Linked DNA regions of Homo sapiens. The protein of the gene in region 2 purifies or fractionates together with the protein of the main gene of each other region. This does not show direct contact. Each region holds a gene or a part of one and is shown on either strand. Other genes may lie near its edges. The genes, in order: NNT and SLC25A12.

What was found.
Region 1: the proteins of SLC25A12 (region 2) and NNT fractionate together in Homo sapiens (co-fractionation; one large-scale study listed by BioGRID). This does not show direct contact.

The regions. Positions count from the first base shown.
Region 1 is NC_000005.10:43,609,680-43,613,260, reverse strand, and holds part of NNT (NAD(P) transhydrogenase, mitochondrial), read right to left. Parts: intron 354-3,581; coding exon 124-353; intron 1-123. UniProt on the Homo sapiens protein: The transhydrogenation between NADH and NADP is coupled to respiration and ATP hydrolysis and functions as a proton pump across the membrane. May play a role in reactive oxygen species (ROS) detoxification in the adrenal gland.
Region 2 is NC_000002.12:171,789,449-171,793,472, forward strand, and holds part of SLC25A12 (electrogenic aspartate/glutamate antiporter SLC25A12, mitochondrial), read right to left. Parts: intron 2,142-4,024; coding exon 2,003-2,141; intron 1-2,002. UniProt on the Homo sapiens protein: Mitochondrial electrogenic aspartate/glutamate antiporter that favors efflux of aspartate and entry of glutamate and proton within the mitochondria as part of the malate-aspartate shuttle.

The DNA.
Region 1 (3,581 bases), on a different chromosome or scaffold from region 2:
AGAAAAATACACTGTTTGAAAATAGGAAAAGGTGTAACTCCAGATAAAGTAATTTAATTTTTCTATGAAAAGATTTCAAAAAGTCAGCATGCTGTAAATGGGAGAGGAAAAAGGAATAATTACTTTGACCACCAAATCAGAAGCCAGCACTTCCTTTGCCCCTTGGATTTGGGCACCTGCCACTCTATAGTGATCATCTGAGAACTTGGAAGCTTCGCCCGCACCCGATTCCACGACAACATTAAAACCCTGCTTGACCAAGTTCTGAACACCAGCAGGAGACAATGCCACTCGCTTCTCATTTTGGAATATCTCTTTGGGGACTCCAACAGTCAGTTGCTTATATGGAATTCCTAGAAACAAGCAAAGGCAAAAAAAATATATATTTGGTAAAAAAACAAACAAAAAATGTTTAAAAACAGATTTCAGAAAATTGAAAGGAGCAATCTTTTCTTCAAAATATACCACACATGCAAGCTGCTGTTCAGAATGATGTTCCTGATTCATACTTATAATTCTTTGACTTTTGTGGTAGATTATAAGAAACTTTTATGCCTACTCTTCTGAAACTTCTAAATATTTTATTTAATCAATTGGCTTTCTTCAAGGAATATAACAAGCTTAGTTGATTTGTAGGAGAAAAAAAAATGGGTTTAGAGATCCCTCCACATGCTGACTCCATTCTTCAAACTAAGGGCAAGGTTATGGTCTCCTTGCCCTTACTTTTAACAAAATTGGAAGTAATTAGCTATTTTGAAGAACAACTGTATCCTAGACACTTTGATGGCCTGCCACACTCAAAGTTCCCTTCCAGGCAATTTGGCCACACACAATGCCTCATAAATTTCTAAGTGTTGTATCTTAAGACTCTACACACTCAGCCACTTAGACAAGGGATCAGCAACTGTGTCAAGGACAATCATCTACAGGGCAGACAAGGAAAACTAGCAGCTGCACCTTATAAGATGACTTAGACAGGAACTCTGTCCAAGGACGCTCTATGTTGGCCAGTGACTACTCAACCCACTGGGTTCTCTCTCAAGGAGTTTAAATGGGAGACCCACAGAGAGGGACAAGGAGAGTAGATCAGTGCAAATATTATTTGTAAGCACAGCTATGAGGTAATCAAAGGGAGGTCAGCAGTAACAGTGATAGAAACATCAGTAGTAGATATTTAAAGAGAGAAGATGGGTCACAGCCATGAATTCTACAAATAACATTCCACTTATCCAAGGAGTAGATGGGGGGTTTCTGGGCTCTCACACTTGCCAAGAATCCACATAGCAAACCCTCATCACAAAATATAATCTGATGTGATTCTGTTCCTTGCAACCCAAAAAAGCCTATATAGTACAATCTTATATTTAGATATGGTTCAGACCATCTTTAGCTACAGGACATCAGTTTCTCCTGATGTTTTACTTAATATGCAGCATAAACATTTTTTAATGAAGAGTATCTGTTTCTATATAAGGTTTATTAAAGCTTAGGAAACCCATTCTTGCAACCTAAGATCTGAATATGTATAATTTCAAAATGAATGAAATTATCCCTACAAAGTAACTTATTAAGTAAGACCTTAGAGAAATTAAGTCAACCTAGACCTGAATTTGAACACTGTCTTAGATTCCACACTACCTATATAGTAATAATTTACAGTACACGAAAGGCAAATAATGCTGAATCTTACTCCTTACTGGAAGGAGAAGGAGGAAAATAATAGAAAGCTGGCAAATATTTGGATTGACATACAAAGCTCAATCACATACACTCATCTCAAGTTCACTTAGCTGACAACCTCAAATTGTCAGGCTCTACATGGCAAAAGCAAGGAAGCTACCAAAGATGACTGAAGCCATGTCAAAAGGATTTAGAAGCCAATTTGAAAGGGCTTCCACTGACCAAATAAGAGATAATTTAAGCACATACAAGGGACAGAGAAACTGGCTAAACAATACCAAGAGGATTCAATCAGCCAAACCTAGAATGTTGTTAATTCTACAGAGCAACAATGAAATTCTTCAGTATATTAAAAGGAATAAAGAGAGGGGAACTTATAGATAAAAAGAGACAAAAGAGACATAGCAAATACAATGTGTGGACCCTGTTTGGATCACTCTTTGAACAAGCCAACTGTAAAGAAAAAGAGGGAGGGAGGGAGGGAGGCAGGGAGGGAGGGAGGGAGGAAGGAAAGAAGGAAGGAAAGAAGCAAGAAAGCAATTGAAAAAATATGAATACTGACTGTAGCTGGAATTACTTACTACACTTTTCAATATGGTAATGAACTTATGGTTATATTAAGGAAAAAATAGACTTCTTATCTTTCAGAGATAAAAATAATTAGGAAATAGTGAAGAACCAGAAATTAAACAAAAATGTCTTATACATAATCAATATAGAGATCTTGATGTCCATGGATTTACTCACAAGGACAGTTTTCATGTCTTCAACAGTTATTTACCTTTATTTTATACACAATTTTATCACCAGGATAATCTGGCTTTCCAGAGCAATTTAAAAGAAAGCATCTGAAGATAAAGTTGGAGGCTTGTAGGGACAGATACCCTGCCAATTGTGACTTGTCATCTGAGAACAAGAAAAGAGGCTATAAAATCTATTCAAGGCAGACATAAGATCTCAAAACACCTAGCAGTTTAGAGGTCCTTAATGAATCCACAAACAGTCCTACAAACTTAAAAAACAAAAGAGGGCATTATTCTAGGTGACAAAGGTTGCCCCCCAAAATATCCATCCTGTTCCTTCACCTTAATAAGAAAATGCCATTTTTAGCTGGGTACATTGCCATCTAGAATAAAAGACAAAATGTCCAAGTCTCCCTTACAGCAAAATGTCCAAGTCTCCCTTACAGCTACATGTCTGAGTTCTGGACAGTGAGGTGAAGTGACAGAAGTACTGGGATGATCTTTGGGCAAGACTGATGAAAGAGAGTTGACTTGGGGGACAACCTGCTCGGGTCCCCTTCCATTCTGTGGAAGCTTTGTTCTTTCGCTCTTTGCAATAAATCTTGCTGCTGCTTAAAAAAAAAAAAAAAAAAAAAAGACAGACAGTTGACTTGGTTTAGAAGGGCCCCTTTTTAGCCTCTCCTCCTTCTGGCCTGTACCCCAGAACAGAAGCAAGGAGACATTCTATCAGGGAAGGCCTTGTAGGCCACTGGAAGACTTCAGATCTTCCTCTGTAAGAGCTAGGAAGCAAGTGGCAAATTTTGAATTGAGGAGTGACATGACTGTACATTTTAAAAAGATTATTCTCACTGTCCTGTGCAGAACAGACTGTAGGGGGCAGAGGTAAAAAGCACAGAGACATTTAGAAGACTGGTGCATCAGTACAGGTGACAGATGACGATGGCTTGGACCAAGATGATAAAAGTAGCAATGGCAAGAAGAGGACAGTTTGTAGATATGAGATGGAGCTGACCTATACCTACTAGGAGGATGTAGAATGACTCCAGGGTTTCTGACCTGAGCAACTGCAATCAAATTGCTACTAACTAAATTGGAAAGCATTAATGTAGACCAATTAATATACTTAATTCCTAATTCCTGAGCATAGATGAGCTGTAT
Region 2 (4,024 bases):
CGATCTCCTGACCTCGTGATCTGCCCGCCTTGGCCTCCCAAAGTGCTGGGATTACAGGAATGAGCCACCAAGCTCGGCCTCAGCCTGACTCTTGAGTTAGGAAGGAGCTGATTTGGAAAAGGAGGAGAGAACCAGGTGTCCTTGGCTGCACCAACACTCCGAAAAGACAAAGGAAGGAAGGGGTGCATGTTTGCTCTCTATACAACCAGTAATGAACCATTACAGAGCTCAGTGTGGCTCTGACCAGCTGTGCTGGCCAACATGGTGAAACCCTGTCTTTACTAAAAATACAAAAATTGGCCAGGCATGGTGGTACACGCCTGTAGTCCCAACTACTTGGGAGGCTGACACAGGAGAATCGCTTGAACCCGGGAGGCAGAGGTTGCAGTGAGCAGAGATTGTACCACTGCACTCCAGCCTGGGTGACAGAGCAAGATTCTGTCTCACCAAAAAAAAAAAAGTGGGAGACTGGTAAGTACCAGAAAGGGGCTGCTACAAACAGCTCACTGCCAAGACTGAGCAGGTAACTTTACTGGCTTTTAAACACAAAACTGACTAAAATTACCATTGCTAGAGGAGAAAGGACTTGCTGGGCCCCAAATAAGGGCGGTAAGTTCCCTGGGGCCGTTTCTTAATGATCAAAGTCATCCCTGTCTTCACGAGCAAGAACAACGTGGTCCATCGCAACACTCTCAGGCCCAAGGGCTCCTACCACACAACAAGCACAGCACACTCCGGGAGCTGCTCAGGTTGCCCTGATGTTTAGCCAGAGCCTCCAGAGGAGAATGAGCCCAGCAAGGAAGAGCAACACAGTGAACATAAGCCTGGCTGGTCAGAGCCACACTGAGCTCTGTAATGGTTCATTACTGGTTGTATAGAGAGCAAACATGCACCCCTTCCTTCCTTTGTCTTTTCAGAGTGTTGGTGCAGCCAAGGACACCTGGTTCTCTCCTTCTATTCCAAGTCAGCTCCTTCCTAACTCAAGAGTCAGGCTGTACCTATGAGGTCAGAAGGAAGCATCTTAGTACCTCCCTGCTCTTACAAGGCTCCTCTTTCAAATGAAATCTCTTCTGTGCCTAATTTGGTATCTTAGACGACATGAAGGTTTTCATTCATGTTATTGACATTTATTGAGCACCTATTACTATTACACTGGCCACGTAGGAAAGGCAAGGATGAAGAGAATGAAACTCTTGCCCTCAAGAAGCTATTAGCCTAGTACAGAGGATAACAATTATGCAAATAACTATTAATAAAAGACAAATTTTTTTTTTTTTGAGACAAGCTCTCACTCTGTCACCCAGGCTGGAGTACAGTGGTGTCATCTCGGCTCACCGCAGCCTTGACCTCCCAGGCTCAGGTGATCCTCCCACCTCAGCCTCCCGGGTAGCTGGCTGGGACTACAGGCACGCACCACTACACCTGGCTAATGACAAAGTGTTAACGATTAGAAAAAATACAAAAATTGAGTTCAAGGTGGTTTGCTGAGGGGTACTGCTTACTTTGGTCTAATGAGGGCAATGGTAGGAAGAAGAGGGACAGCTTCACGACAAAAGCTCAATTTTCGGCCAAATCATGTAGATTCCAATATACAGAAGAGAGAAAGTAAGAGCATGCTAGATCTGTGCATGAGCATGAGATACAGCTAAGCAACTGATTTGAGGAAAAACTTTCCCACCTTAATGCTTAGCTTGGCTGTACTCAAGGTTTCAGGGGCACAGGAAACTAAGAAACATGTTAATGATGAAAGCCCAATTTAGATGGGCAGATCTAATTTGGCTCTGAGTTGCTAAGCTGCATTAAGCTGTTTATCCACATTATGCAAATGTAATTAACTCTCATCAGAATTACAGCACATCCCACAAAGGAGAAAAAGTGATATTTAAACTAAGTCAGGTACAAACAATAATACTTCCAGAAATAAAGGGGGAAAGTACATAGAGATTCTGTACTTTTTAAATAATGGGAGAATTCTTTCAGTTAAAAAAAAATTTGTAGTTACCTGCCATGGCTCCAGCTGCAAGAAGATTTAAACCTCCCACGTGTCCATTTTCATCAGCCAGAAGTAGTTTGCAATGAGCATAAACAGGAAAATAGATTGCAGAGAAGGGAATGTCTCGGAGGAAACACGCTTTGGCACCCTGTCACACAGTGAGGAAATAGTGCAAAACAGTGTGAAACTGAGTGTGAATGCCCAAATGGGATCCATGTGACATTTGTCAGTGACAAGCTTGAGGTGTCCCTCAGTGACAAGCCTGAGGTGTCCCTTAAACAGCATTAGAACTGATGTGCAAGGGAAATGGGGGAGGCGGGAGATAAGTGGGGAATAGGGAAATCTGCATATCTCAAAGCTTGTGAAAGCATGGTGAATCCTGCAGTCCTAGAGTTAATAACTGGGTAATGATAGTATTCTGAAAACTAAGAACTTTCTGGCATTTCTTATATAGATTCAGAGTTTTTAAAATTAATTAATCTCTTACTATGGTAAAAACACACAAGATCTACCCTCTTAAGTTTTTACATCAGCTGAGAGTCCCCGCAGTGCCAGGTAAAAAGCTATAGGCAGTGGTGAAGGAAAAGTAACTACTCTAGAGCAGGGGGAAAAGAAACCCAAATCTTCTCTCCTCATTCCCCATGTCCTAAATAGCAGACAAAATATTTTAGCGGCAGGTTTCCACAGGAGTAGAAAATCATTACCCAGGGGCAGCTTGTCCCAATGACTGAGGTCTCAAAGAACACCTCCCTCAGCTTTGTCAGAAGCCCACACCATTCCACTACCTAGCTAGGCAAACACTCCACCTTGGCGCTTGTTTTTTTAATGACTCTGTTTTATTCTTTTTAATTTTTTTTTTTTTCTGAGACAGGGTCTCACTATGTTGCCCAGGCTGGAGCATAGTGGCAGGATCACAGCTTGCTGTAGCCTTGACCGTCTGAGCTCAAGTGATCCTCCCACCTCAGCCTCCTGAGTAGCTGGGATGATAGGTGTGCACCACTGTGCCGGCTAATTTTTTCTTTCTTTTTTTTTTTTAAGGTAGACACAAGGTCTTGCTATTTTGCCCTGGCTGGTCTTGAACTCCTGGGCTCAAGCAATCCCCCTGCCTTGGCCTCCCAAAGTGCTGAGAGTACAAGTGTGAGCCAGTGCTCCCAGCCCTGGCTTTTTTAAAAAAAGACAAACTCAAACATTGAAAAAAAAAAAATCCAAGGACTCGCTAAAGGATAATACAGAGAGAAGCAATATTAATAAATTCATCTCTCAAAGGGAATTCAAAAAGGATGGAAATTGGGAGTGGGGAGGAGGAAGCAAAAATGTGTACGAAACTCTCTTGAGACAGGCATCATTGTTTGCTGGTCTCCAGAGAACCCTGTAGCTGTGTGATTCCAATCTAGAGAATTTCTAATTTCTAATTTGCAGTTACCGAAACAAATTTACACATTTCTGCAGTGATGGATCTATATCAGATGCTGTGGAAACACACTTGGCTATGGTGGCTAAATTTACGTATTCCCCTTATACCAGGCAAAGGAATGGAAAGAAATATTCTTCCTTGTTTAAGAAAAATAATAGCTTCTGCTCCATTACATCTGATCTGTAATGATGGGAGTAAGTATACCCGCAGGGAAGGAATCTTTTGACTGGCATTTTGTTAAAGTACAGTACACTCTGTTGTTGGTTTGTTTTTTTTTTTTTTAATGGAATTCATTATTGACAAATCCTACCACTTAACTTCTTAAAGACCTGAATCCTACCAAACTCTACTACTGTTTTACTGTGGTCAAATTATTAAGACAAAAGCTCCCACTGGGAAGATAACAATAGAGATAATCAGACCGAAAATAAACATAAGACTATTTTGAAGCCCTAAACCAACCCAAAGAGAGCACCAGGGAAAGTTTTCCCAAGCCCCCCAGCAAATGAAAGGCTGTGAGCCTGAGGCCAGCAGGTCTGCGGTGCTGGCCTCCTTGCTGGCAGTTTCATAAAAGCCTGATGACAACAGGAGAGGCTGCATGTGTATCCCACTGCCTC